7 linked regions of the Homo sapiens genome follow. The protein of the gene in region 1 purifies or fractionates together with the protein of each later gene. This does not show direct contact. Each region holds a gene or a part of one and is shown in the gene's direction. Other genes may lie near its edges. The genes, in order: TEK, NQO1, LANCL1, TBCA, GLO1, YTHDF3 and KCNT2.

Region 1 (3,744 bases):
CAGTGTTTCCCAAACTATGTTTTCACGTGTTGTGCAAGATATAAATACATGATGCAAGGGGAAAGGAGTTCTGCGGTCAATTACTTTGGAAACTTTGTGTTAAACCTGTTGTCTTAGTCATTTCCGGCTGCTGTAACAACATACCATAAACATGGTGGCTTATAAACAACAGAGATGTATTTCTCACAGTTCTGAAGGCTGGGAAATCCAAGATCAAAGCGCTAGCAGATTTGGTGGCCATGAGCCATTTCCTAGCTCATAGATGGCCATCTTTCTGCTGTGTCCTCACGTGGCACTAGGGGCAAAAGAGCTCTTTGAGGCCTTTTGTGTAAGAGCACGAATCCCATTCATGAGGGTTCTACCCTCATGACCTGATCACCTCCCAAAGGACCTACCTTCAAACACCATCACATGGTTTCAACACATGATTTTTGGGTGGCATGAACATTCAGTCCATAGCACCTGGTTAAACAGGCATTTTTTTGTTTTTAATGACAGTGCTTCTAAAAGTCCTGCCTCTTAAAGGGACTTTATGTGGGTGGCATTTTACAAGTTTGAGCATGGGCCCTTTAAGAGACACTAACATTTTGAAATATGCAGCATTCCAAGGCAAATGCTGCTCTAGACACATACCCAGTTCTTTCTAGATGATTGCAATAGCTGAGACCAAGGTCCTGCAGAAACAGTACCGAGGGTAGGAACTAAATCTATGAGGAGTTGAAATGAGACTGGCTTAGGGAGGTGGGAGTCCTCATAGAAACTTCCTAGGGGCTGTACTTTGGTTAAGCTTCATAACCATGCATTGGGTGGCTTCATTCTCTCCTCTCTTTTCCTGCCGTGCCTAGGACTGAAGCACAGTTATAGAATTAACCCTTTAATTCTTTGCTTTCGAAGGTATGATCTAATGAGACAATGCTGGCGGGAGAAGCCTTATGAGAGGCCATCATTTGCCCAGATATTGGTGTCCTTAAACAGAATGTTAGAGGAGCGAAAGGTAAGTATTAAAGTCAGGCAGGAGATCTTTAATTGGAATACCTGATGTGCCCAGGGTGGTTCATAAAAAACATTGAAATAATTGAAGAAGTTCTTCTTGGCATGGCCCTAAGTATTATAGAAACAAAGGATGTCCCTCCACCCCCGCGACTTTGAAGAAGTTACAATTTTGGGGGGAAATAAGATTTCTATACAAGATACAGTCACGTACACACTAGAATAACATACAGAATTAGCCTATTAGAGTTGGAAGGAATTTTCGTCATATAGCCTGACCCTTTAATTTTATAGATGAAGAAACAGACTCAGAAGTGGGTGACTTGACCAAGGACACACAGCAAGTAGACAACAGAGCCTGACCTGCAGGTTACTATAATGAGGGTCAGGAACTCCATAAAAATTTCTAGAAGTAAGTTGGCTGTACCGATCTGGGAGTCAAAATAAAAGTAAACACAGTTTAAAGAAATAGTCATCAAAACCCAAGTGGTAATTCAACTAGAGATGCAGGTGAGATCACACAGATGTGAAAATGAGATTCAGACAGAGGAAGGAACCCAGAAGAAGGAACCCTAGGGAAGCTGAACACATTAGGAGGTACCAATAAGACACTGTGAGAAAGGCAAGCTCAGAAACTGAGGATACAGTATGAAATCTTACTTGCAGAACGCAAGGGGATGCATTTTAGGAAGAAAGTCATCAAATACAACAGAGGGACTGAGGACAGAAAAGTATCCCCCAAGTGCTTAGTATATGAGTTGCAACAAACTAAGAAAACCAAGGTATTGCTGTAACTGCCGCTGGCAGAGGTGGAATCAAAGCAGCCTATGTCTCTGAACCATTTTCATTCTTCCAGACCTACGTGAATACCACGCTTTATGAGAAGTTTACTTATGCAGGAATTGACTGTTCTGCTGAAGAAGCGGCCTAGGACAGAACATCTGTATACCCTCTGTTTCCCTTTCACTGGCATGGGAGACCCTTGACACCTGCTGAGAAAACATGCCTCTGCCAAAGGATGTGATATATAAGTGTACATATGTGCTGTACACCTGGGACCTTCACCACTGTAGATCCCATGCATGGATCTATGTAGTATGCTCTGACTCTAATAGGACTGTATATACTGTTTTAAGAATGGGCTGAAATCAGAATGCCTGTTTGTGGTTTCATATGCAATAATATATTTTTTTAAAAATGTGGACTTCATAGGAAGGCGTGAGTACAATTAGTATAATGCATAACTCATTGTTGTCCTAGATATTTTGATATTTACCTTTATGTTGAATGCTATTAAATGTTTTCCTGTGTCAAAGTAAAATATTGTTAATAAACCTAACAATGACCCTGATAGTACAGGTTAAGTGAGAGAACTATATGAATTCTAACAAGTCATAGGTTAATATTTAAGACACTGAAAAATCTAAGTGATATAAATCAGATTCTTCTCTCTCAATTTTATCCCTCACCTGTAGCAGCCAGTCCCGTTTCATTTAGTCATGTGACCACTCTGTCTTGTGTTTCCACAGCCTGCAAGTCAGTCCAGGATGCTAACATCTAAAAATAGACTTAAATCTCATTGCTTACAAGCCTAAGAATCTTTAGAGAAGTATACATAAGTTTAGGATAAAATAATGGGATTTTCTTTTCTTTTCTCTGGTAATATTGACTTGTATATTTTAAGAAATAACAGAAAGCCTGGGTGACATTTGGGAGACATGTGACATTTATATATTGAATTAATATCCCTACATGTATTGCACATTGTAAAAAGTTTTAGTTTTGATGAGTTGTGAGTTTACCTTGTATACTGTAGGCACACTTTGCACTGATATATCATGAGTGAATAAATGTCTTGCCTACTCACGTCTCATCCAGGAGTGTGTCTCATAGCTATTGCCACATGTCCTTATTATACTTTAAAGAAAAATCGTTTAAATTATCCATCCCTAGCACCTAGAGTAGTGCGAGTATACTCCACCAGTTACGGAATCTGAAGCTCATCAGATTGAAAAGGTCTCCTAGAAGTGTTCTACTGCTTATTTCTTTTTCTTGCAACAGGCAGTACACCTTTGGGAGTGTTCCAGTGTGAACCAAGGGCTTAGAATTGGAATTCCTTTTAATTGTGTTACAATGTTAAATAAAGTCCTCACACAATGTCATTGATAGGTTTGTGGAAACTGCAGTACTATGTAGTGAAACCAATTTTACCATAGAGTAACTCATAGAAACGAGATGCTATCCCCATCAAGCTACCATTGACTTTCTTCATAGAACTGGAAAAAACTACTTTAAATTTCATATGGAACCAAAAAAGAGCCCACATAGCCAAGACAATCCTAAGCAAAAAGAACAAAATTGGAGGTATCAGGCTACCTGACTTCAAACTATACTACAAGGCTACAGTAACCAAAACAGCATGGTACTGGTACCAAAACAGATATATAGACCAATGGAACAGAACAGAGGCCTCAGGAATGACACCACACATCTACAACCATCTGATCTTTGACAAACCTGACAAAAGCAATGGGGAAATGATTCCCTATTTAATAAATGGTGTTAGGAAAACTGGCTAGCCATATGCAGAAAACTGGATCCCTTCCTTATACCTTATACAAAAATTAACTCAAGATGGATTAAAGACTTAAACGTAAGATCTAAAACCATAAAAGCCCTAGAAGAAAACCTGGGCAATACCATTCAGGACATAGGCATGGGCAAAGACTTCATGACTAAAACACCAAATGCAAT
Region 2 (4,019 bases), on another chromosome or scaffold:
TGCAATGGTGCGATCTCGGCTCATTGCAACCTCCGCCTCCTGGATTCAAGCAATTCTCCTGCCTCAGCCTCCCGATTAGCTGGGATTACAGGCACCTGCCACTACACCTGGTTAATTTTTTTTTGTATTTTTAGTAGAGACGGGGTTTCACCATGTTAACCAGGCTGGTCTCTAACTCCTGACATGAGGTGATCTGCCCGCCTCAGCCTCCCAAAGTGCTGAGATTACAGGTGTGAGCCACCGCGACCCACCCACAACCTTCTTTTGATCATTTTTCTTTTGAGTTGTTTTGGGGATCTACCTATTCCAGGTACTGCACTTTGATGGTTATATTTGTTGCAAATATATTATTCCTGCTTGTGTGTTGCCTTACATGAAAAATTGTAAAGTCACAGGCCTGCTTATAGCTATTAGAGTCTGAGCTCCTTGAAAGAGCAAGAGATGGATATCCTGATTTGCTCATTTTCTGAGAAGTGCCTTGACTGTCTTACTACTTAGAAAATGCTTGTTAACATTGATGAGAAGTCAATAAAATAAAAACTGTTGGCTGGGCGCTGTGGCTCACGCCTGTAATCCCAGCAGTTTGGGAGGCCGAGACAGGCGGATCACGAGGTCAGGAAATCGAGACCATCCTGGCTAACACGGTGAAACCCCGTCTCTACTAAAAATACAATTAGCCGGGCGTGGCGGCGAGCGCCTGTAATCCCAGCTACTCTGGAGGCTGAGGCAGGAGAATGGCGTGAACCTGGGAGGCGGAGCTTGCAGTGAGCCGAGATCGCGCCACTGCACTCCAGCCTGGGCGACAGAGCGAAACTCTGTCTCAAAAAAACAAACAAACAAAAACTGTCAGAGCGGCGATCAGTAAACATTGATAAGACTAATGGCAAGGTAAGTTACAAAGAAAATGCCTGTTAGAGCTGAATATGCTCACTTCCCTCCCAATCATGTTAAATCCATGGGTTAAAGAGGTAGGAATTTGTTGAGGCAGCCTCAGAGCTTCCTTTTCCTTTTTCCAAGCTATCCCAAGCAAGTCAATCACTTCCAGCGCATTGAAATCATCACCAGACACCTATTCCACTGAGTCTTAGTTTTAAGAGTCCAAAACCCTAGGACCAAGTTTGGAAATCCCCTGGTTTGGCATATTGGGCCCTGAAAGTTACACTTCGCTGAATTTAGCCCAAGAGGCACTTGCCTTGCTAGATGTGGTCAATAATAAAAGCAGGAAGAGAGCTTAAGGTTTAAATGTGCCTTTCTAGTTATTTTAGTTATTTCTAGTTATTCAGATGGTGCAAAAAAGTTGCAGATGCCGGCTGGGCGCGGTGGCTCACGCCTGTAATCCCAGCACTTTGGGAGGCCAAGGCAGGTGGGTCATGAGGTTAGGACATCGAGACCATCCTGGCTAACATGGTGTCTCTACTAAAACAAAAAATACAAAAAATTAGCCGGGCGTGGTGGCACGCGCCTGTAATCCCAGCTATTCGGAGGCTGAGGAAGGAGAATCGCTTGAACCCGGGAGGCAGAAGTTGCTGTAAGCCGAGATGGCGCCACTGCACTCCAGCCTGGGTGACAGAGCAAGACTCCATCTCCCCCGCCCCCACCCCCACCCTGCCAAAAAAGTTGCAGATGCCTTCTCTCCCAGCTCCACCCACTGTTCATGGTAGGGTATGAAGTAGCAGCGCACATTATCAGGAGCAACTGTGGGGGTAAGCGTCCTTTCTCTGGCAATTCGCTCTATGCCCTTGTACGCTGTTGTTTGTATTTCTCACTGTTTGTAAGTCTCACTGTCGCCCAGGCTGGAGTACAGTGGTGTGATCACGGCTCACTGCAACCTCCACCTCCCTGGCTCAAATGATCTTCCCACCTCAGCTTCCTAAGTAGCTGGGACTACAGGCACACACCACTACGCTCAGCTAATTTTTTTTTTTTTTTTTTTTTTGGTAGAAACGGGGTTTCTCCATGTTAGCCAGGCTGGTCTCAAACTCCTGGGCTCAAGCAAGCTGCCTGCCTCGGCTTCCCAAAGTGCTGGGATTACAGGTGTGAGCCACCACGCCCAGCCACTCTCTGTGTTTTTAAATTATTCCAGCTTCACCACTTAATGACTACACACTTGGGTAACTTGCTTCTCTCCTGTGCCTCAGTTTTCTCATCTGTAACATGGGGCTACTCATGGTATTGACCTCATAGGGTGTGTCTCAGTCTATTTTGTGCTGCCATACATAATACTTGGGACTAGGTAGTTAATAAAAAAGAGAAATTGATTTCTCACAGTTCTGGAAGCTGGGAAGTCGAAGATCAAGGTGCTGGCAGGTTTGGCTGTCTGGTGAGAGCTGCATTTGGAGGAATGCTGCGTCCTTACATAGACGGTGGGAGGTAGAAGGTGGAAGGGCAGGTGAGCCCCGTGCTGGGCGAAGCCTCTTTTATGAGGGCCTTAATCCCACTCATGAGGAAGGAGACCCCCTCGCCTAATCACCTATCACAGGCCCCATCTGTTAATCCTCTCACATTGGCAGCACCTGAATTTTGGAGGGGGACACGTTTAAAACATAGCAGGTTGTCCTGACAAAGGAAGAAAGTGCAGGCCGGGCGTGGTTGCTCACACCTATAATCCCAACATTGTAGGAGGCTGAGGCAGGCAAAATTGCCCCAGCCTGGGCAACACGGCTCCAAATTTGACCAGCCTGGGCAACATGGCAAATCCCTGTCTCTACAAAAAAAAAAAAAAAATTAGGTGTGGTGGTGCACACCTGTAGTATCAGCTACTCAGGAGGCTGAGGTGGGAGGATAGCTTGAGCCTGAGAGGTCAAGGCTGCAGTGACCTGAGATCATGCCACTGCATTCCAGCCTGGGCAACAGATCGAGACCCTGTCTCAGAAAGAGAAAAAGAAAAAAAAGGAATGCAAAGCACTTAGGGCAGTGCCTAGCACTAAGGATCCACTAAATACTGTTCTTGCAAATTGAAGCATGCTGCCTCTGACAACCTTGTTAATATAAAAGAGGCCCATTTCCCTTCTACCTGTACCTCTTTGCCATTTCTTATAAAGGAAGCTGAGCTGTTAATAGTTCAATGTGATTGGCCTGGCACGGTGGCTCACACCTGTAATCCTAGCTACTGGGGATGCTGAGGCAGGAGAATCGCTTGAACCTGAGAGGCGGAGGTTGCAGTGAGCCAAGTTCATGCCACTGCACTCCAGCCTGGGCAACAGAGTGAGACTGTCAAAAAAAAAAAAAAGTTTAATGTGATCACTGCACATTTTTCCCCCTCATACCAAGGTGCTGCAAGTCTACATACAAATATATGTCATTTCTTTTTTTCTTTTTTTTTTGTATTTTCTTTTTTCTTCCTTCCCTTCCCTCTCTCCCTTCCTCTCACTTCTTTCATTTTAAATAAAAATGGGTTCATATTCACTTGCTTTTTTATCAGTTAATAATATAGCATGGATATCTTTTTGAGTCACTACATATAGTTAATTCATTTTAATTTTTTTAATTTTTAAAATTTGTTTATTTGAGACAGGGTCTCCCTCTGTCACCCAGGCTGGAGTGCAGTGCGGCGATCACGGATCACTGCAGCCTCAACCTCCTGGGTTCAAGTGATCCTTCCATCTCTCAGCCTCCTGAGTAGTTGGGACTACAGGCATACACCACCATGCCCAGCTAATTTTTGTACGTTTTGTAGAGAAGGGATTTCGCTTTTGTCATGTTGCCCAGGCTGGTCTTGAACTCCTGGGCTCAAGCAATGTTCCCGCCTTGGCCTCCCAAAGTGCTGGAATTAGAAGCGTGAGCAACCGTACCTGGTCAACAGTCTCTAAAAATTTTTTTTTATGACAAGGTGTCACTATGCTGCCCATGCTGGTCTCCATCTCCTGGCCTCAAGGGATCTTGCCGCCTCAGCCTTCCAAGTAGCTGGATTACAGGCTCCAGCCACTGTGCCCAGCCAGTTTAACTCATTCTTTTTTATATATTTTTTACTTTTATCTTAATTTATTTATTTTTCTGAGACAGGGTCTTACTCTGTCACC
Region 3 (4,019 bases), on another chromosome or scaffold:
TCTTAACCTCTTTGCAGAAATTGTTAAATAATGGGAGTGTGTCTGTCAAACAACGTCGTTTCTTCTAAAGAGTGAAATAAGGGATCATAGTGGTGCTTTAGATTAAATAATCCAGATGTGGTTGAAAGTCTGATTTGCCTTATCAAGGATGCTCCTCCGAAGTGAATCTTAACGTATCCTTAAACTATTGTTGTTGTTGTTAATTCTGATACTGCCTTCTTGCTGTTTTCAGTGTTAAGATTTTATCTCATTTTTAAAAATGAGATTCTGATGTGAGTGGTTAGGTTTATTTCTACAATCCTTACATGGTAAAATAAAATGTTTATACCCTTGTAACTTTCCCCCACATTGTTCTGAAATTTTAATTACTATGTGAAATTCAAGTCTTAGAATCACAGCAAGTTCTTAAAATTATTGAGGGAGACAATAAAGTGAGTTTTTTGGGTTTTTGTTGTTGTTGTTGTTGTTGTTTGAGATGGAGTTTCGCTCTTGTTGCCCAGGCTGGAGTGCAGTGGCACGATCTCGGCTCACCACAACCTCCATCTCCCAGGTTCAAGGAATTCTCCTGCCTCAGGCTTCCGAATAGCTGGGATTACAGGCGTTCACCACCATGCCCGACTAATTTTGTATTTTTAGTAGAGATGGGGTTTCTCCATGTTGGTCAGACTGGTCTCGAACTCCTAACCTCAGGTTATCCGCCCACCTCGGCCTCCCAAAATGCTAGGATTACAGGCATTAGCCACTGTGCCCGGCCTTCAGTGACTTTTTAAGACACTGATTCAGTGTGTGCAGAAGTTTAAAATTATTTTTCATTTGCCTTTAAGAAGAATAACGTAATGATTGTGTGAGCCTCACTGTTTGCACAGCATCTGTGGACCTTCATATGGGTGGTACTAACCCCACAGCCCCAGCCTTAGTGTATTTTCAATCCATATCTAAACTATTACTTGCCTTAGACCCTTGATCTGCTAAAGAATTAGTAAAAATGTCAACATTTACATCCCTGAATGAGAAAGACTTGTGATACACTATCTCATTTAATCCCCAAAGTACCTTTTGAAATTGGCGTGGCAGTTATTATTATCCTGACTTTATGGAGGTATTTGAAACATAAAGAAGTTATGAGTTGAGCAAGATCAGCTAATAGCGGGTAAGGATGTAGACAGGCTCATTCATTGAGAAACATTTGTGAAGCCCGTATTCTCTGCCAGACACTGTGCTGGACGTGGGTTTATGATGCTAAGTTTGATATTCTTTCTATTCTGCTTAAGGCTCTTGATATACATGAATTTGTTTTGCTTTTCTTTGGCTACTTCATTTTTTTTAAATCCTTTTTTTTAAATAAGAGCAATTAGATGTTTCTTTAGGGAATTTACCTTGCTGCAGCTTGAATACTAAAAATCCAGTAGTTTGAAAGCACCAAACATCTGATTTGTGCTTAATTTAATAAAAAGACTTTATTATAATATTGGTTTAAATAATAGACGATTACTATTAGGTGGAAAATTACTGTGAGCCAGTTTATCATTGGCAGTCTGTTTTAGTATTTAACTAAAAATTTTATTTAAAACATGTATAAGTTACAACGGTATTTTATAAATTTTGTTAATGTGATGTTGTTGTTTAAGAATAGAAAATAAATTGTTTAGTCTTCCAGGTGGAAAAATATGTCCTAAGTGGAAAAGAAATACCTTTCTGTCTTTGATAGCTTATAGTCCAGCAAGCTGGGTGACCCACATTATTTTGATACTTGTTTTCCTTTAATATCTAGCTGACTCCTGAGTTCTCACAACGCTTGACCAATAAGATTCGGGAGCTTCTTCAGCAAATGGAGAGAGGCCTGAAATCAGCAGACCCTCGGGATGGCACCGGTTACACTGGCTGGGCAGGTATGAAGTGCTGACTGTGAGCTGGCATAAGCATTGTGCTTAAGAGCCAGAGCATTTTTCCGAGAGCTGTCTGTCTGAATGGTACACCCTTAAATGCTTCCTGCATCTGCATATGAGTAATTGCTTCTGGGAGAGTGCTGTGCCCTCAACCCAACCAACCATGGTATCTTCTGGGTTTTTAATAGTGCCCTGAATTTAGGGCATGGTAAGCATATTCATGTAATTCATGCCTGACATTTGGATGGCTGCTATACTTGTGAGGAGAAAAATTGATTTTCAATATTACATAGTTAATTTGCAGATGTAATTTCAGTGGGAAGAATTGGGAAGAGTTCCAAAATACAATGCCTGAAGCGGAGGTAATGAGGATTGATCTCAGGAATAAAATATGTCCAGAAGCATGTTTTAAAAAGTTAACCCGTAACAGGAATCCATACAGGAATCCATACAGGGTAAAGTATTACTTCCATGAACTAATCCTCCCATATGGTCATTGCTGTTTGGTTTGCAATTGCTGCATTGCCAATCTCAATCATTGAGAGGCTGGAGGAGGTTTAGGAAGAAACAGTGCATTGATGTCAAAAAAAGGTGAGAAAGAGAAAAATCAAAGAAGAGGCTGGGCGCAGTGGCTCACACCTGTAATCCCAGCACTTTGGGAGGCCGAGGCGGGTGGATCACGAGGTCAAGAGATCAAGACCATCCTGGCCAACACTGTGCAACCCCATCTTTACTAAAACTACAAAAATTAGCTGGGCATGGTGGCTCATACCTGTAGTCCCAGCTACTCAGGAGGCTGAGGCAGGAGAATCACTTGAACCTGGGAGGTGGAGATTGCAGTGAGATGAGATCACTCCACTGCACTCCAGCCTGGTGATGGAGCAAGACTCCATCTCAAAAAAAAAAAAAAAAAAAAAAATCAAAGAAGAAAAGTTGAAGAACTGCAATTAATTTACCAAATGTAGAGAAACAAAAGACAGCTGTGTAATCTGGAAGAAAGCATAGTCTAGAGACTCAGTGTTTCCCATTCGCTTTAAAGAGTGGGCAAGGAGGAATAAGCTTGCAATCCAGGGAATTTTAATTTGATTTTAAGGAGTGGAATTTGTCATAAAAATGGCCTCATAGCAGAGATTGTGATTCAGTAGATCTTGAGCAGAACCCAGGAATTTGCCTTTTATAGCCATCAGTGGTCCTGATGCAGATGGTGATCTACAGACTGCAGTTTGAAAGCTTTCTGAGAGAAATTTATTAATAATAGCAATCTCTTATTAGTCTTCCTCTTTAGTACAGGTTGAGCATCCCAAATCTGAAAATCTGAAATCCAAAATGCTCCAAAATTTGAAGCTTTTTAAGCTCTGATGTGACACTCAAAGGGAATGTTCATCGAGCATTTAGGATTACCGATGTTCAGATTTGGGATACTCAACTGGTAAATATAAGCCAAATATTTCAATATTTGAAATCCAAAACACTTGTCCCAAGGATTTCAGATAACGGGTACTCAACCAATAATGACACATGATTCTATTTTTTTTTAAACAAGGGTAGGGAAGACAGATTAAACCAGTAAAATTAAAATCTCAGGGACTTTTAAAGTCAATGTTTTGTAAAAATAAGACTGGACTAGATAATGTTGGACCATTTTATTGTTTTATCATTTTTATGGATTGTAGAAGCTTAACACAAAGTTAAAATGAGAATGAAATGACAGGATTTTGTTTCAAGAAGGAAGGTATAACAGCTGCCATTTATTATCTACTGTGTTCCAGGTGTGATGTGGTTGATAGATAATGTCATCAGTGAATGTTGAACATTACTATTTATTTAAAATTATCGTGGTTTGAACAAAACAGGACAAGCACAGCGCACAGTTGTCTTGAGTTTTCCTCTTGATTGCCACATTGTAATAATATATAAGGCTCAAACTTACAGATCTTTTTCTAATATATATGGAGTTTCTATTATTTTGTTATTCCTTGCCAAAAAAAAAAATCACTAGTTAATTCTAGTACTGATTACAAAAGAATGACTTAAACTTCTAAATTGGCCATTCACATGTACTCATATTATTATTGTGAGTTACTTTGCTTTAGGAGGAAAAAAAAGGGGATTGATTTCAAGTTTGAATTAAGT
Region 4 (4,747 bases), on another chromosome or scaffold:
AGCAGAATAAAAATATTTATTGAATTCTGTGCCCATTGTGCACAAAACACAGGTGGAGGAGGTTGGGGAAGGAAGATTTATGGAAGACAAGAATCTTGCCTCTAAACATGTTTATGAACCAGGATTTATAACTACGAAGCTGAACAAAACCCTTACGAAGGACCAAACAATAATTTGAAAAAGAAATATACTAAAAATAATGATGACTACTGGGTGACTCCAAAGCATCCAGGGAAGATTGAACAGGTGGGGTGAGTCATAGTAGACTTTGCTCAGTTTTGATCCTGGATTTAAAGTAACGGCCTTGGGCTGGCGGGATAGAAGGGGATTCCAGGACCAGTCATGAAAGTGAGAATGAGTAAGTCAGGCTAGGGAAGGAAAAAGACAGTCATATGGGTGTCTTTGAAGGATGGTACCAAGAAATTTTAAAAAGGGGGTGGGCTCGGTGGCTCATGACTGTAATCCCAGCACTTTTGGAGGGTGAGGTGGGCCTCACCTGAGGTCAGGAGTTCTAGCCAGCCTGGCCAACGTGGTGAAACCCCGTTTCTACTAAAAATACAAAAAAAAAAAAAAAAAAAAATTAGCCAGGCATAGTGGAACGCGCCTATAATTCCAGCTACTCTAGGGGCTGAGGCAGGAGAATCACTTGAACCCAGGAGGCGGAGGTTGCAGTGAGCCGAGATCAAGCCACTGCACGACAGAGTGAGAATCTGTCTCAAAAAAAAAAAAAAGAAAAAGAAAAAGAAAAGCAATTTTAAAAAGGGCGATTCTGCCCTGTATTCCTCAGGAGATTCTCTTAGGAAGGGACTGCTAGAGCTCACTGTAGATGTGCCTCATTTTATGCAACAAATATATTTTTGAACATATAAAATAGTCAAATGTTGTTCAGCATCTACCATGCGTCAGACAATGAGCTAGGTGTTTTAACCCTTATACCTAATCTGTAAAATGGACATTATTATTTCCATTTTGCAGACTGATCAGCTGCAAGGCTAAACAGCATACGTATCAGTGTTGTCTAGCTAATAGTCTAGCTATTAAAGGGTGGAACCTCGATTGTAAGCCGGTTTGTCTGATTAGGAAGCCCAAGGTTTTGTGTGCGACACACATTCTTGTAAGTTAAATATTTAGGATACACTATAAGTGATCATCTGAAGAAGTTCTGTTAGTCATTTCCTTTGAAAGGCACGTTATCTACAAACCTTCTTGCAGGGATTTGAGGTAAAGGGCAAGGATTTTCTTGACTGCGTGCATGATGGCAGTTTGTTTCACTACACATGCATCACTCTGCCTCATCTGACACCAGATAACGACATCGAAAATACCCTTAATACATTTTTTAGGTCACTCCGTCCATTAAGCAGATAATCCCGCAAAGCAACGTCCCAGAGAGACGTTAGTTTCCCCAAAGGCCCAGGCTGTGGAGACCGGGATAGTGTAACTTGCGCCTGAAGTAAAAAGAGGGGCAGTCCGAGAGAGAGGAGGAGGGCACGTTTCACTACGGGTAAAGGGGCGCACGAGGGGTAAAGGGACTGGCGGGAGCAGGGTACCGCCCTCTAGTAAACCCGCCCCGCGGGGCGTGGCGGGGACGACGGGCCGCGCAGCCTGCGCATGCGCGCCGGCGACCACGCCTAAATAGCCGCAGCCTCTGCGCGTCGCCCTCCACGGTTACCCCGGCTCTCCGCCCCTCCTTCTCGCGGCGCTCGAGGGACCATGGCCGATCCTCGCGTGAGACAGATCAAGATCAAGACCGGCGTGGTGAAGCGGTAAGGAGCCGGGAGCGGCGCCCTGCACCTCCTCTTCGTCACCTCATGGCGGCCCGCGAGGCTGAGCGGAGCGCAGGCCCGAGGAGGCCCGAGGCGGGCTCCGAACTCCAGGCCGCACCCGGGGCTCCGCAGTTGGCTGGGACTGGCAGGGACCCAGCGGGGCGCGCTGACGCCCGAGCCCGCCAGCCTCGCACGCCGCTTCCCGTCCCTCTCCGCTCACTGGCCGCTCTGATTTGCCGGAAGAGTCGGCGGTGGCCCGGTTTCTCGGCGCCCGCGGTGGGAAGGTGGTGGGCCGCGGCCTGCGAGGGCGGGCCGGGCCCTGATCCCGTGCCTCCTGTGTGCGCGCGCCGGCCTCTCCTTGCTGAACTTGGCCCGGGGAAGCGGGATCCCAGCTGTGCTCTCAAATGGGCTTGAAAGCAGGCTCTGAAGTTTAGGGGGATGCGGAGGATCTGGGCCTCGTCAAAAAAGACCGTAGTGGAGCCGTGTGACCTAACATGGCTGGCGTGACTGGCAGGCTTTGAGAACTGGGCCTGAACTTCTAGCACACTCAGCAAACTTATGTGGCCTCACTTTCTCCAGTCAGATTCCCCGAAGCTCGCCCCAGAGGCTGTGAGATGCTGTTTAAATAACTTGTGAACCAGAAGTATCTGAGACAGGTCTTAATTTGGAATGTTTATTTTGCCAAGGACGTGCCCATGACACAGCCTCAGGAGGTCCTGATGACATGTGCCCAAGGCGGTTGGGGCACAGCTTGGTGTAATACGTTTTAGGGAGACCTCAGATATTAGTCAATGGGTAAGGTGTACCTTGGTTCCCTCCAGAAAGGCAGGACAACTAGAAGGTTGGGGGGCATCCAGGTCATAGATAAGAGACAAATGGTTGCATTCTTTTGAGTCTTTGATCAGCTTTTCACTTAATACACAATTTACATGTGAGAGAGGGATAGAAGAATAGTCACTTATGCCTTAGTCGGCTAAATGAATCTGCGATTTTACATACACAGTAGGGCAGAGGAAGCAGTCAGTTACGCATTTGTCTCAGGTGGGTAGAGGGGTGACTTTGAGTTCTGTTCTTTGTCCCATACCTGTGAAGATAAGCTATCAATTTACATTGCCAGGGTGAAATACAACAGAACTGTTTTAGAGTGAAGGTCTTGAGGCCCACAAGGAATTTCCTTGGGGGCAAATTGTCAGGGAGGTATGTAGCTTTTTTTTTTTTTTTTTTAATCTTTGTAGCTATCTTATTCAGGAATAAAATGAGAGGCAGGTTTGCTCGATGCAATTCCCAGCTTGACTTTTCTTTTTGGCTTAGTGATTTTGGGGTCCTGAGATTTATTTTTCCTTTCACAAACTCATGGGTAGTGCAGTCCTGTAATTTGCTTAAATTCCTGTAAACCAAGAAAGTACCTGAGACAGGTCTCAATCAGTTTAGAAGTTTATTTTGCCAAGGTTAAGGATATGCCTGTGACAGCCTCAGGAAGTCCTGATGACATGTGCCCGAGGTGGTCAGGCTACAGCTTGGTTTTATACATTTTAGGGAGACAGAAGACATCAATCAATACATGTACGATGTACATTGGTTTGATCTGGAAAGGCAGGACAACCCAAAGCGGGCTGGGGACAGTTCCAAGTTATAGGAGGTTTTCCAATTGGCAGTTCGTTGAAAGAGTTTATCTTAAGACCTGGAATCAATACAAGGGAGTGTGTCTGGGTTAAAATAAAGGGGTTGTGGAGATCAAGGTTCTTATTAGGCAGATGAAGCCTCCAGGTAGCAGGCTTCAGAGAGAATAGATTGTAAATGTTTCTTATCAGACTTAAAAAGGTCCCAGACTCCTAGTTAATTTTCTAGTGGATCAGGAAAAAGACCTGGACAGGGAAGAGGGTTCTCTACAGAATATAGATTTTCCCCTTAAGAGACATCTTTGCAGGGCCAATTCAAAATATGTAAAGAAATATATTTTAGAGTAAAATGCTTTTATTTCTTTCAGATCCCGCTATCTGTCCTGTGATGCCATACTAGAGTAAAGCTGGAATTTGGTGTCTTATTGTTACAAAAAGCCTTAAGATCTGTTTTAATGTTAATGCTGCTCAATTGTTCCTGAGTTCCAAAGGGAGGAATGTGTAATGAGACATGTCTGACCCCCTCTTCCCATCATGGCCTGAATTACTTTAGAATGCCCTTAGTTGAGAGGAGGGGTCCATTCAGACGGTTTTGGAGCTTAGAATTTTGTTTTTAGTTTGCATTCCTGAGTGCTGGTAGACCCTTCAGTGTTCATTAGAACTTTATTGTTCAGACCCAAGAAGAGCAAACTTTTTGATGAAGTATTACAAGAGAAAAGATAAACAGCCTTCTGAAGAAGCAAGTTATTTTGTTGTAGCAATGTCTACTAAAGAAACCAACTGGCTTCTTCCTGTTCGCCCACCTTTCCTTTGTTTATTGATATTTCCACCAGAGGAAGGACCAGGCAAAAGGGAGAATAAATTCACTTTTTAAGATAATGCTTCTGAGTTTTAGCACAGCATCCCACTTCCCGGGAAGCTTTATTGCCAAGGCAATAAGGAGACCATGTGAGTAGGAGTTAAATGCACAGCCATTTGTGAAGTGAGACTGCTTGGGTTCAGATCTTGATTCTGCCCTTTATTCTATGTTGTGGAATATATTACATTGTGCTGTGCCTCTTTTACCTTATTTGTAAAATAGAGCAAGCACCCAACTCAAGCAGTTGTTGCAAGAACTGCCTGCTATGCTGTTTAATACAGTATGTGGCAAATAGCAAGTGGGTAGTAAATGTTAATAATACTGTTTGGATTCTCATTTTACATATGAGAAACTGAGGTTTAATGAAGTTAAAAAAAGAAAAAAAAAACTTGTCTAAAGTCACACTACTAGTTAGTGGCAATGCAAGGAAAAGGACCAAGGTTTCAAATCTACAACTTTCTCCTTTAAGCTACAGTGCTCCCGTAAAGAGTATTTTTAAAATT
Region 5 (4,019 bases), on another chromosome or scaffold:
ATCCACTGATCTTGCAATCCTAAAGCATACTTATTTTTCTAAAGCATGTTTATTTTTCTTTTTTTCTCCAGCTTTACTGAGGTATATTGAGAAATAATTTTGTCATATTGTTGATTTGTTTCCCTAAGTTATGTGAGCATTTTGCTTTTGAGCATATAGATACATGAATAATAAAATAATCTTTAAATTTAGTGCCTAGATAACTTCCATTCACATTGAGAGAAAAATTTAAGTAATATATGTCTATATTTAGAAAATTTGACCAGTTCAGAAAAATACAAAATGAAAAGTAATAGCTTCCCTCCCCAAGTTCTTCTCCCCAGAGATAACTGCTGTCCAGTTTCTTGTGATTTTTTTCTAGAAAAAGGTATTATGAATATATTTATGACATATTTAAAGGACAAAATGAAAACAGATTTATTGAACACTTTTGCCAGGCACTTCAAATGTTATTTTGTTCAGTCTTCACACCAGTCTTAGGAGGTAGCTTTTATCCCCATTTCACAGACGGAGAAACCAAAGCTTAATGAGATGAAGTTACTAGCTCCAAATCCCACAGTTGGCATATGGCAGGGCTGGAACCTGTATCCATTGTCTGATGGGCTCTAATGTAGACTTCCTGTGCAGAGCCCCCAAATAGGGTACAAGTTGACAGTAAGCTGGAAGATTTGAACAGCTGAGAAAAGCAAGTTGCAACAGTTTCATTTCCTTCAGTCCCAACTGATTGGTCCATGAGGGTTGTGTAGTCTGCTTTAGTAGGTGCAGAGATTGTTTTTCATGATTGGAGTATTTGAGGTGTTTGATACTTTATTATAAACATGTTAGAGTAAATCTTATTTGTGATAAGTCAATGCAAGGATCTAAGTGGGCCAAGGTCTATTATATAGCAGTGATAATGAAATAAAAGATTGGAAGCAGAACTCTAGAAACTTTCCATTTGCTATATGGCAATAACAGCCATTTGCTCTTATTGATTATGAACAAAGTCATCTTTGAATAATCTAAAGAAAATCATATATGCATTCTCATGCCACCTTACTCCTTGCCAAATAATCCTATACCATTTAAAGTCATTTAAGGTTCAGGACTTCAGTTATCTTTCTTAAAACCTCAGGATTCATAATTCATTCACTCTCTCTCCCATCAGTCTCTTCTACTGTCTCTTTCCCCTCAGAGAAGCGTAAGTCTTCTTTGTTCCAGAATATTTCTTGCCCTCTGCTCCTTCGCCTACCTCCCCATTGTCACTGCCATGCTTGCTACTGTTTTACCTGCTCACCTGCCATTCTCTCTCCCCAGTACAGTGTAATCCAGCTGATGCTTCCCCACTCTGCTGACATTGCTCTCATGGGACCTTTCCATATCTCATGACCTTTTCTTAGTCTTAATACTGTTTGACCTTTCTACAGTATCTGATACTGTTAGCCACCTTACTGTTGACATTCACGTCTTCTGTGATACTAGTCTGTCCTTCCTCCTTCTTTCTTACCACCTATCCTTAATTTCCTTTCCTAGATGTTTTGGCATAGTAAGAACTCAATAAATGTGTTTATTTAACTGAATGACATATTTATATATGTGTTTGTATGTGTGTATATATATGAAATAGCAACAAGGTTCTTTATATTTTTCAGTACAAATAAACACAGTTCTCTTTTGGAGATAGCCGTTTCTATTTATTAACAAGTACCATAATTTCAGCTAAATGTTACTATATTTACAGAATTGATGAATTACAGAAGTTTTCATTTTTGTATTTCAAATATTTACAGATGCATTTTTCATGATATTTTTTCACTGATTTTTCCTCCTGCTTATTCCATTAAAATAGGCTTACTACATATAGCTCTTCTTTTTAGTAAAACTTGAATATTAAGTTATGTTGATTATAGTATGAATTAGCCTTTCCTGTTGTTAATGATTCAGGCTTGTTGTTTTTTCATTGCAGGCTAATCCAAAAATGTGATTTTCCCATTATGAAGTTTTCACTCTACTTCTTGGCTTATGAGGATAAAAATGACATCCCTAAAGAAAAAGATGAAAAAATAGCCTGGGCGCTCTCCAGAAAAGCTACACTTGAGCTGACACAGTGAGTATGAGTTTCTATATTTATATATATTATAGATTTTTTAAGGTAGTTTTTAAAAATCTTTTTTGTTTTGTTTACTGACCAGTATAATTCAAACCAGATCTGCCTATGACTTCACATTTTTAATAATATATTGAAGTGTTTTTCATGCATCTTTTGATCTTTGTATTGTTCTTGGGCAAATGAGATGTGTTTTTTTTAGAGACAGGCTCTCTGAAGCCTCTAACTTCTAGGTAGTCTTCCTGCCTCAGCCTCCTGAGCACCTTGGACTACACATGTGTGCCACCACACCCAGCTAGTTTTTGTTTGTTTGTTTTTGGTAGAGGCATAGAGGCAAGGTCTCACTATGTTGCCCAGGCTGGTCTCAAACTCCTGGCCTCAAGTGATCCGCCCGCCTCGGCCTCCCAGACTGCTGGGATTATAAGCATGAGCCACCACGCCTGGCCCATTTGTCTTTTATTTTTATTTATTTATTTATTTATTTTTTGAGACAGAGTCTTGCTCTGTTGCCCAGGCTGGAGTGCAGTGGCGCGATCTCGGCTCACTGCAAGCTCTGCCTCCCGGATTCACTCCATTCTCCTGCCTCAGCCTCCCAAGTAGCTGGGACTACAGGCGCCCGCCACTACGCCCAGCTAATTTTTTGTATTTTTTGTAGAGACGGGGTTTCACCATGTTAGCCAGGATGGTCTCGATCTCCTGACCTCGTGATCTGTCTGCCTCGGCCGCCCAAAGTGCTGGGATTACAGGCGTGACCCACCACGCCCGGCCTCCATTTGTCTTTTAGATAAGAGAATATAAGACCCTGAAATTGTAAGATATTTGCCTGTTTGTCTCTAACTAATTTTTAGGTACTATAATTAGTCTTTCAGCATCCAAAATTTTGTTCTTTTATTATTTTGCTACATTTTGGATCCAGAAATGTGATATCATGTGTTCCTTTAAAAATTCTTCAAACCATTTTGTAATAATTAACATTCAAATTTGGTATTTTTATAACTTGAGCACTTAAAAATGTAGGCAATTTCTTTACATTGTTTATCTGCATACTTTAAAAGAGATTGATTTCAGAGTGTGTGATTTCGTGTGTCCCTTGATTCAAAATAAAGCTTTGGAATCAGGCAGGCTTAGATATGAGTCTGTGACTCTAAACAAGTAAGTGGCAGTTTCATCAATAGAATGGAGATGTTCACACCTAGCCCATGGAGCTGTTTTAAGGGTTTAAATGAAATATAAAGTACTTAGCACAATAAATGAGCATTATTATTATTCTTATTATTGTTCTTGTCCAGTACCTGTATTTACTGTCTCTTTAGTCTCGTTAAAATCATACTTTGGCCATTTGTCCTTTCTATAGTTGAAAACTTAATATTTTTGTAGCAGGGGTTAGGCCAATTATGTAAAGTAGCATATAAACGTGGTAAGATTTCAAAGATGTTACTTGCTTTTCAGAATATCTATTCCCTAGGACATTGTAGCTATGTTTTCCTTCCTTTTGTAGCAATTGGGGCACTGAAGATGATGAGACCCAGAGTTACCACAATGGCAATTCAGACCCTCGAGGATTCGGTAAGTTTGCCTGTTTTTATGTGATATATGTAGATTTGTGTGATTTTGTATTATGTATATAATTATGATTTTAATAAACCTAAAACATTAATGTCCTAATTAAGTATGATCAATTTATTAGAGATATGATTATTTTTATTTTCCACAAATAATCTTATTTAGGAGTTGTTTAATTTCAGAGTCTCGATCTAAAATTACACTTACCATCTCACCATGATTTACTTTTAAGTCTCAGAATTAATTTCCAGTAGACTTTTTTTTTTAAAAAAGCTGTAGTTAATACTAATCCCAGTTTCTGCTAGCACATACACTTCTGCCTTGATCTCCAGTCTCTCAATCAAGATGACAGTATTGCAGGCTTCAGCTG
Region 6 (4,019 bases), on another chromosome or scaffold:
AAAATGGCAGATGCTACAAGTGCACAAATAACAAATATACGTTACTTGTATTTTTATGACTGCAGGGAGAATTACAAGGCAAAGGCAACACTACCAGTGAACCTGATATAAGTAGCTATGTGTGTATTTGAGAAAAGCTTTTCTGCCTTAGCTTGTTCCCAGCTCGTAAAATTGTTTTACAATTCTGTTTACTTTCATGAAGTTATTTTTCTTGAACTGCAACCTCAGTATTCTAAATATGAGTAATCTTGAATTCTGAACTTAGCAAGCTTATGAAAAATAGTATGTCCTTGAGAAGTTGGTGTCAGTTAAAGTTTTGAACACGTAATCCTTTTCAGTCAACTTACTATAATTTCAGAGATCCTGTTTCTTTTCTGAATTGTCTTTAGTTGACAGCTTTAGCCTAACACCTAGTTTTAGTGTCTTTGATTTTCTATATATCCTTAATTACTTAATTCATTACAGAAGCCAAAAGGAATTCTAAATAATTGTCTTTGATATGGCAAAAATGTTTTTTGTAGAATAAGTAATAATTCAAGGTTTACTTGTTTTATAAGTTTGAATTCTTTTTTAATTAAGTCTGTCCCTGTGTTAAATATCAGAACTCTTTATTATCCTTGGCAAGAGTAGTACCAAAGGATAGTAGAAATTTAAGGATAATTATTTGCCTATTGGTTCATAATTTAACACTTCGTATTTTATTTTTTTATTAAGTAGAATTTTTGCTTATTGGAATAAAGGTGTGCAGTACTTTTATTTGGGAGTACTATGGTTGGAAGTGTCAGATGCCATACTTACAGTCTTAGGCCTTACTGCCTCCTTTCTCCTCTAAGTTTATAAATAGCAAATTCATGGAACAGGATTTATCTTTTTCCTCCTCTCCGCTCTCTTCCAACGGAGAGACGTATGCATTGTTTTATACAACTGTAATTTAAAATAATTAGGTTAAATTTGGCTAAGTTTTAATTTTCGAAAAGTAGTGGAAAATGCCTTATATTTTGGCAATATTCTGTTGTATTCTCTCCTCGTCCTCCCGAGAAATGATTTCAAAGCACTTTACTATCATTATTTTAGGCTTCATTTTATCAATCCTCACAACATCCTTGTAAGGAGATAGCGGGTATATGGTATTGTCGCTGTTTTTGTAGGTGGGGAAACATGATGCACAGATCTGTTGACTTTCCTAACTTGATGTAGTCAGGACCAGAGCAAAGAATCACCTGGCTCCTAAGGCCCATGTTCTATCTTGATTTGACTCTGTTTCATAGAGCAGAGGAAACAGGCGAAGAATCATGTAAGTCATCTGTTCTTTTTACCCCTGAAGAAATTTTACAGACTATGGAACTAGCTTGGATTTCATTTCTATTTAATGGTTTTCAGACTCCAAGACATTAGCTTGTCATTAAGTAAATATTCAAAAACGAAAGTCTTTAAGATAGTTTTCTTTAAGATACACTTCCAAAACTTAAGGGCTAGTTTAATGCAAATTGCTTCTCGGTATATGTGAAGTACTTTTAATTAAACATTTTTTAAAGTAGATTGACTTTTTGTACTATATTTTAAGACTTTATAGACATTTATGCATCATTTAAAAATGACCGTAGACTGTATTTATAATAGTATATGGGTTGTTCTCAGGCCTAGCCTCTTAGAAGAGAAATAATAGAACAAAAAAAATAAGAATAACAGGATTATATTTATATATATATACAGATAAATTTTAAGTAAGTACTTTTTCCTTTTTTTTTTTTTAAATAGAGGCAGAGTCTCACTCTGTACCCCAGGCTGGAGTGCAGTGGCATAATCATAGCTCAGTGTAACCTGGAATGCCTTGGCTCAAGTGATCCTCCTTAGACTCCTGAGTAACTAGGACTATAGGCACATGCCACCACTCCTGGCTAATTTCTAAACATTTTTCGTAAAGGTGGGATCTTGCTGTGTTGCCCAGGCTGGTCTTGAGCTCCTGGCCTGGCACTTTTTGTATTTGTATGAACTAGATTTTCGAGAACCTAGTGGATATGAGAGATAGTTAGTCATAATTTTTAAGTTGTTAGCTGTTTCAAATACTGACTAACATGTATGAGTGTAATAGTGAAGAATTTTTTTTCAAGAAGTAATAGACCATGCATACTTACCTTTGATTTAGGAGCAGTAAAGCCAGTGTCAGAGGAGAACAGGTATGTCAGAATCTCTTGGACTGAAATGAATAACCCAGCCTTATAATGGCACTAGAAGTAACCTAAGGCACCCTCTTTATTTTGGTTTCTAGTGGCTATTACATATTTAAATTCCATGGAGCATATTTAGCTCAATCCTAGTTCTGATGCAGTCCTTATCAGACATAGTTAAATTATGTTAGTGGAGCCAGGATCAAGTTGACCTTCAGGTTGCTTCTTGTGGCCTCTGAGGGGCAGTGTGGTGTAGTAAGAAGTCTACTTTGAATGCTTTACACAGTAACATCATATCTTTGATCTTTGCCACTCATTGGATGGCAAAGATTTAAGGGATTTTGTATATCTTTGCTCCCAAGCCACTGTTAACTCATAATATTACATTTTAGGTGCTCTACACTCATGGGAAAATTTAAGGATAATAAAAATGTTATATTACAGAGGAATACGCAATTTAAACCCGTCACCCTCCTAACTTCATAAAATTTGGTGATGTTGTACCTTTGAGCAGTAAATCTTTAGATACTGAGTTCTTTTTGTTTCTAATTTGTAGACATCCATCGGAAACTTTCAACTTTATCTTCACTAGTATAGAATAGTATATTTACATAGTGCCACCTCATCAAGTATTAGCTTAGTAACACTTCTGTTTAAATGGTTCTAAAGTCATATTAGTCCTATTTGGATCTTGTAATATTTAATGTGATTACATTTAAGATTATTGAACACTGTCATTTAATAATCAGATGAGATGAGGTAGGTACTATTCATACATAACCTTCTGAAACAGCGAACAGTCAAAGGTTAGAGAGTTTAAATCCCTAACTGGAGATCATCTCCTCAGTGCTGGACTTGAGATTCAAATTCGGGACCTTACTTCTGAGTCTGCTCAAAAGCACTCTGAAACAGCATCCAGAGAATAACAACTTTAGAGTGTTTATGGAGATGACCTTTGAACAAAATTATTCTCTGACTTGTTTCTCATGTATTGCAAGGATAATTATGGCTATCTTTTGTGTCTTAATTTTGTTTGTAGTTTCATGTGAAAGTCTTCATTCTGGGGGGCTTAGAATTAAAGCCCTCTTTATTTAGATATTTCATAATTATAAGTCTATTCATTGTGATATTGTTTCAAGTTAATTTTAGCCTAAACTTTACTGGAGACATTTAAGACATTTACTATAACAAATTAGATCGAAAATAGTTATTTCATTCTTTATTATACTAAATAATTTAGAGATTTAAACAAAGGTAGAGAACATTCAGAAATCTTTTTTATTGCCTACAACGCTACTTGAAATAGTTATTTTACATTCAAATATAGCATTAGGGAACTCTTTCCAACATTCTTATGTAACAATTTACTCACTACAGTGTTGAGATTGGGATATTTACTTAAAGTTTTTGGTAAGGGGAAGTGTATATATGGCTTGTGTTTATGTAATCTTGGGCTTATGTATCAAAAGACTTTTAAGTTTTTGTGGCACATGAATATTTGTATCTAAAATAGTTTATCCTTAAGAGGGTTCTTAAAAATAACTCAGTATTATTTTTTCTGATTACTTTTTTTGGCTTGAAAAATATTAAAAACATTAGGTTGTGCTGCGAGTTTCATAAAGATAACTACAACACTTCTAATACAAACATTTTTTTAGTTTCAGTACAAAACGGTTCGATTCATCAAAAAGATGCTGTAAATGATGATGATTTTGAGCCATACTTAAGTAGCCAGACAAATCAGGTAAGTCTTCTGACAGTTTCAGATTTTAGGAAATTAACCTTTTATTAGTATTAGTTGATTTTTCAAATAGATTATTTAATGAGATTAACCATAACATGGATTCATTC
Region 7 (4,458 bases), on another chromosome or scaffold:
ATTAATCACTATTTTCTGGATAAGCCAAATATTCTAAAAAATCCCTATGCCTCTACTCATACTATTCTCTCTGCTTGCTTCACCTTTGCTCTTTTCCCTAAAGTAGGCTGCGAACGAATATAGAAGGCTTGGTTCATTTTCAATGTCTTCCTTGACCCCCACCTCGAAGAAGTATGTGTACCTCACAGGTATTTCCAAATCCCTCTGTATGTTCTTTGATTATTGTCTCTCACATCGTATCCATTTATCAAGGAACAAGCTTGTTCCTCCACACAGAGCGGTTCTTAAGTAAGGGCAGGAGAAGCCATATGGTTATCCTCCGGCCCAGGCTGTCAGGTGGTTGGTATTCGGTCTGTATATACTCTGATGCAATCAGTTTTTGAAGGAAAGAACGGTAAGCGCAAATAGAACCATAGCTTGTGTAGCAGGGTTCATGTAAGCAGTGGTTCTTACTGAAAAACAGACCCTGTTCTCTCGGGCTCACTTCTTCCTCCGTGTGAACCACTAATAGGAGGGGACCGAAGGCTGAGGCCAGGCCACCTGGAAGCCCACAACGCTGCTAGTAGCAGCGACAGCAGTAACAGCAACTCACCACTGTAAAATCCTCAGTGCGTTTCCATGTGCTTTCCCTGTCATCTAAATGCTTCTCTTCAGCGGCCTAAGGTGGCCCTTCTTTTTCCCCGAGTTCAGGGAAACACCTCCCTTCTTTCAGAATGTGAGAAAAAAATGGGATTTTCCTGGGGCTGAGAGTGGGGATTCCCTTTCCAGAAACGTGCAATTTTTTCATCCCGCCCACCTGGACTGAAGGCAATCAAAGCGAGGGAGCTCGTGGCATAGTGGAACACTCCAAGCACCCTGGCCCCCCTCCTCCCAGAGAAGGGTCTGGAGCCCCGCAATCCGCTAATTAGCTCGCCCCCATTGGTTGTCCCCAAGGCACCCCCGTGCCGTCACTGTGCTATGCTAATGAGGGGGAGTCTCATTGGCTGGGCCTCCAGCTCCATCTCCACAGGGAGATTGCGGGGAGAGCCGGGTTGGCCGCGTCTGGGGCCGAAACCCACCGCCCCCGATTCCCGCCAGCTCAGGGCTGTGCCGGATGCAAGCCCGCCCGAGGGAACAGTAGCCGGGAGGCTGCCCTCTGGGAGGATCTGGCAACTGCCTTTAAGGAAAGTGCTTCACCATCAAGCGGCGCTCACTCCCACCCCTCTCCCCTCTTTCTAGGCACCGCGCGTCTTTTTCGGCGAAGTAACTTTTTATACCCGCCTCCCCCTAGTCCTGGGGACCAGAGGCGGTGCCGAGCCTGGGGGCGGTTCCTTGGCAGCGTTGATTCTTGTCAGAGCCAGACTTTTGCTCCTGGGTTGGGTTTGCATCATCCCCATTACACCCTCGGGAAAGAGGAGCCAGCCCCCTTTCAAGCCTTAGCTTCCGGCTCCAAGCGGACCCCCTCCCCCTCCCTGTCCCCTTCCCCTTCTCCCATCCCTCTCTCGGCCACAGCGTCTTGTTAGTCCTCTCCCTGTACTCCGCAATATTTTCTTTCTTTCTCCCTCCTCTCCTCCATTTGTTGTTTGATGTTTCCCACTCTTTGAGGAAGGATGGTTGATTTGGAGAGCGAAGTGCCCCCTCTGCCTCCCAGGTACAGGTTTCGAGATTTGCTGCTAGGGGACCAAGGATGGCAAAACGACGACAGGTGAGTGGTGTGGTGGAGGATTGTTCTGTAAATATTGCTGAAAAAGAGACGGAAATGGGAGGGCCGAAGTGGGGAAAGGAGGGAGAAAAGGAAAACGGAGCCAGAGAGGGAGACTAGGCTGGGGGAGGGAGTAAAAGAGACTCTGATTTGTCTCTCCATTTTGACTCTATATAACTGTTGCTATAGATAAGGAACTCTTTTTCTTTACACTTTTCTTATTCTTGCAAGGTATTTATTGCATTCATTTGGTGCTTATTCTTTTGTCTATCTGTGCTTTTCTAGGATGTGTATAAGGCTGGTATCAGAGGTACAATACACCCAAATGGTATGCAATATCATTTCCAGAAAATTTGCATTTTTTCCTTAGGTGTGGTTAATCAAACTCAAAATTGCATGCAAGTTGTTTGAAAAAGCACATTAGAAACTTAAAATCTCCTGAGTCTATTTACCTCCTCCTTGTCTGTGTTGTCTTGAGTAGGTATCTACTTGGCACTGGAAATTTTATGCTGTTTAAACATTTTGGAGTTTTAAGTAGACAATTGGTTTAAATATGTAACAGGTAGTTAGTGAAAATGACAACCTTTTTAATACAATATACTCACTTTGAACAGGTGACTCTGACCATTATGAATAATGATGTTTGTATAACATGATACAACCTTTTCATAACTAGTATATTTTTTTAACTGAAACAGAATATATGTCTCAAAATTAAAATTAAGTTTCAAAACTAGAATATTTATTGTTAGCAAAATATTGTTCATGTGTTTTATTTATAGCATTACTGCTTTGCACAAACTTCTGAAATTCCTCTGTCTATTTCTGTCTCAAGCACATTTTGTATTTCAGCGAATTTAGTATTTTCTGGAATAGTCATCCCATATATCACATGCCACATTTCTTTGTTTTAAAATAATACATGTATACTAACTAGGTTCTCAACTCAATTGAAATGTTTCATTGAAGTTTAGTTTAGTATTGATGTGCTATTTTAGTTATATAAAAGATCCATTATTGGTCCAATCCAAAATCCCCTCCTCATTCACCACTGACCAATACACTCTATTTCTTTTCTTCACCTTTTCAGCTCCCAATACCAACTCCTGTCTCTACACACTGAGGATTTTATCTTGAGCATCAATTATGGGCATCTTGTTTGGTCTCATATTAGTAATTTGAAAGGAGATGGATGTTTTGTAGAGGATATTTTGGTTCAATCTCTTTTTTAGGCAAAACCACACATATTGGCTAAAAATTTAAAGAAGTAATACCAATTTCTCAGTATTCTTGTAAAGTGTTTGGGTAAACTGAAGATAAAGAAAATAATTTTTAAGTGAATTTGTAATACAAATTGACATTTAGATAAACTGCATTAGCCTGGTTAAATGGCTTAGTAAGTGTAGCATGGTGTTCCTAGTGACTGAATGTATATTTAGTTCAGGACCTCAGGATCATTATATAGAATAGAAATCCTCTTTGTAGAAAGTGTGAGATAGATTAAACACATAAAGCACATACTTTGGTTATAGTGATGGTATTGTTGTTTGTTTGTTTTAAATATCATATCCAATATGTTAATTTTCATGTGGTTGCCCTCATTTTTCTAAGGATGCTGCAGAAATATTTTAGTAATTAAGAATTTTGGTTAGTTGAACACTGCCTAAATGGATCAGTGCCATATTAAAAAAGTTTTGCAGAATGGTTAAAATTTTATGTTCTATTAAAAGGTTATGCTAGCCCAACTTTAACTTAAAAAGCAGGCCACATTTACTACTAAAATAAGTTATTAAATATTTAAAACAATCATTCAACCATTTTTAAGGATTTGGCTACTTTTGTGGCTTCATGGAAAACTATTCTTTGGTTTTGGTTCCATTTGTTGTTAATCTTTGAAGGCAAGATACTTGGAATCAGAGAAACCCAGATTCAGTCCTTGGCTGTTTCCTTCACTAGCTGAGTGGCCTTGGGAAAGTCATTCAGCCATTATGAGATTCAGCAATATTATTTTTTATAATGGGAATTATACTGTCTACCTTATAAAACTGTGACAAGAGGAAGGATGGAGAGGCGCAGAACTAACATTTAGTTGGAAATAAGTACTCCCAAGTTCTTTTAACTGTGCGGTATGTTCTTTCTTAGTTAATCCTCAGACAAACTCTGAATAGCAGGCAATTATGTTAGGCACAAGGAAACTGAAATTTTGGTAAATTAAATACGTGTCTTGGATATTATATCTTATCAGTGTAAAGATAACTCTTCAGTTCAGTTTATTATTATTCAAATCCCTCAAGAAATTCTTAAGTTCTTTTCACTTAATTTATTTGAACTTATAAGAATAATTTACAGCACCTAGCATAGTTTAGGTGCTCATTAAATATTAGTTCCCTTCTTCACTTCTGATTTGCCCTTTGCAATCCTTTTTTTCTCCCTTTTCAGACTCCTAAGCTAATATGTGGTAGGTAAAGTCATCTTCCTTGTCTATAATATGGTGACAAATTCCTCTTTGCAATTACGCCTGGATAGCAATCTCATTCTACTCAGTTATCTTCTTGGACTCAATTCTTATAGAGTTGAGGAGGAAGCCCTCTTTCATGTAGGAGTAGGTAGATCATTTCCAACAACAGATACATTTAGTGCTCTGCCCATATTCTCAAAGCAACTTTCTTTGAACACCTCCTGCATGAGGTTTTCTCCCCACCACCAACCTCAGGTGCATCCAAGTCCTGCTTGGAGAACAAGCTGGAGTGTCACTGAGTAAATAGGCTGTTTCTGAA

Evidence for each region.
Region 2: the proteins of TEK (region 1) and NQO1 purify together in Homo sapiens (affinity purification with mass spectrometry; one large-scale study listed by BioGRID and IntAct). This does not show direct contact.
Region 3: the proteins of TEK (region 1) and LANCL1 purify together in Homo sapiens (affinity purification with mass spectrometry; one large-scale study listed by BioGRID and IntAct). This does not show direct contact.
Region 4: the proteins of TEK (region 1) and TBCA purify together in Homo sapiens (affinity purification with mass spectrometry; one large-scale study listed by BioGRID and IntAct). This does not show direct contact.
Region 5: the proteins of TEK (region 1) and GLO1 purify together in Homo sapiens (affinity purification with mass spectrometry; one large-scale study listed by BioGRID and IntAct). This does not show direct contact.
Region 6: the proteins of TEK (region 1) and YTHDF3 purify together in Homo sapiens (affinity purification with mass spectrometry; one large-scale study listed by BioGRID and IntAct). This does not show direct contact.
Region 7: the proteins of TEK (region 1) and KCNT2 purify together in Homo sapiens (affinity purification with mass spectrometry; one large-scale study listed by BioGRID and IntAct). This does not show direct contact.

The regions. Positions count from the first base shown.
Region 1 is NC_000009.12:27,227,312-27,231,055, forward strand, and holds the end of TEK (angiopoietin-1 receptor isoform 1 precursor), read left to right. Parts: intron 1-894; coding exon 895-994; intron 995-1,846; coding exon 1,847-1,921; 3' UTR 1,922-2,863; downstream 2,864-3,744. UniProt on the Homo sapiens protein: Tyrosine-protein kinase that acts as a cell-surface receptor for ANGPT1, ANGPT2 and ANGPT4 and regulates angiogenesis, endothelial cell survival, proliferation, migration, adhesion and cell spreading, reorganization of the actin cytoskeleton, but also maintenance of vascular quiescence.
Region 2 is NC_000016.10:69,719,749-69,723,767, reverse strand, and holds part of NQO1 (NAD(P)H dehydrogenase [quinone] 1), read left to right. Parts: intron 1-4,019. UniProt on the Homo sapiens protein: Flavin-containing quinone reductase that catalyzes two-electron reduction of quinones to hydroquinones using either NADH or NADPH as electron donors.
Region 3 is NC_000002.12:210,469,829-210,473,847, reverse strand, and holds part of LANCL1 (glutathione S-transferase LANCL1), read left to right. Parts: intron 1-1,771; coding exon 1,772-1,889; intron 1,890-3,514; exon of another isoform or gene 3,515-4,019. UniProt on the Homo sapiens protein: Functions as a glutathione transferase. Catalyzes conjugation of the glutathione (GSH) to artificial substrates 1-chloro-2,4-dinitrobenzene (CDNB) and p-nitrophenyl acetate.
Region 4 is NC_000005.10:77,773,224-77,777,970, reverse strand, and holds the start of TBCA (tubulin-specific chaperone A), read left to right. Parts: upstream 1-1,631; 5' UTR 1,632-1,713; coding exon 1,714-1,766; intron 1,767-4,747. UniProt on the Homo sapiens protein: Tubulin-folding protein; involved in the early step of the tubulin folding pathway.
Region 5 is NC_000006.12:38,682,441-38,686,459, reverse strand, and holds part of GLO1 (lactoylglutathione lyase), read left to right. Parts: intron 1-1,945; coding exon 1,946-2,086; intron 2,087-3,584; coding exon 3,585-3,652; intron 3,653-4,019. UniProt on the Homo sapiens protein: Catalyzes the conversion of hemimercaptal, formed from methylglyoxal and glutathione, to S-lactoylglutathione. Involved in the regulation of TNF-induced transcriptional activity of NF-kappa-B. Required for normal osteoclastogenesis.
Region 6 is NC_000008.11:63,171,505-63,175,523, forward strand, and holds part of YTHDF3 (YTH domain-containing family protein 3), read left to right. Parts: intron 1-1,148; exon of another isoform or gene 1,149-1,236; coding exon of another isoform or gene 1,237-1,294; intron 1,295-2,146; exon of another isoform or gene 2,147-2,177; intron 2,178-3,826; coding exon 3,827-3,912; intron 3,913-4,019. UniProt on the Homo sapiens protein: Specifically recognizes and binds N6-methyladenosine (m6A)-containing RNAs, and regulates their stability. M6A is a modification present at internal sites of mRNAs and some non-coding RNAs and plays a role in mRNA stability and processing.
Region 7 is NC_000001.11:196,605,441-196,609,898, reverse strand, and holds the start of KCNT2 (potassium channel subfamily T member 2), read left to right. Parts: upstream 1-1,458; 5' UTR 1,459-1,589; coding exon 1,590-1,684; intron 1,685-4,458. UniProt on the Homo sapiens protein: Sodium-activated and chloride-activated potassium channel. Produces rapidly activating outward rectifier K(+) currents. Contributes to regulate neuronal excitability.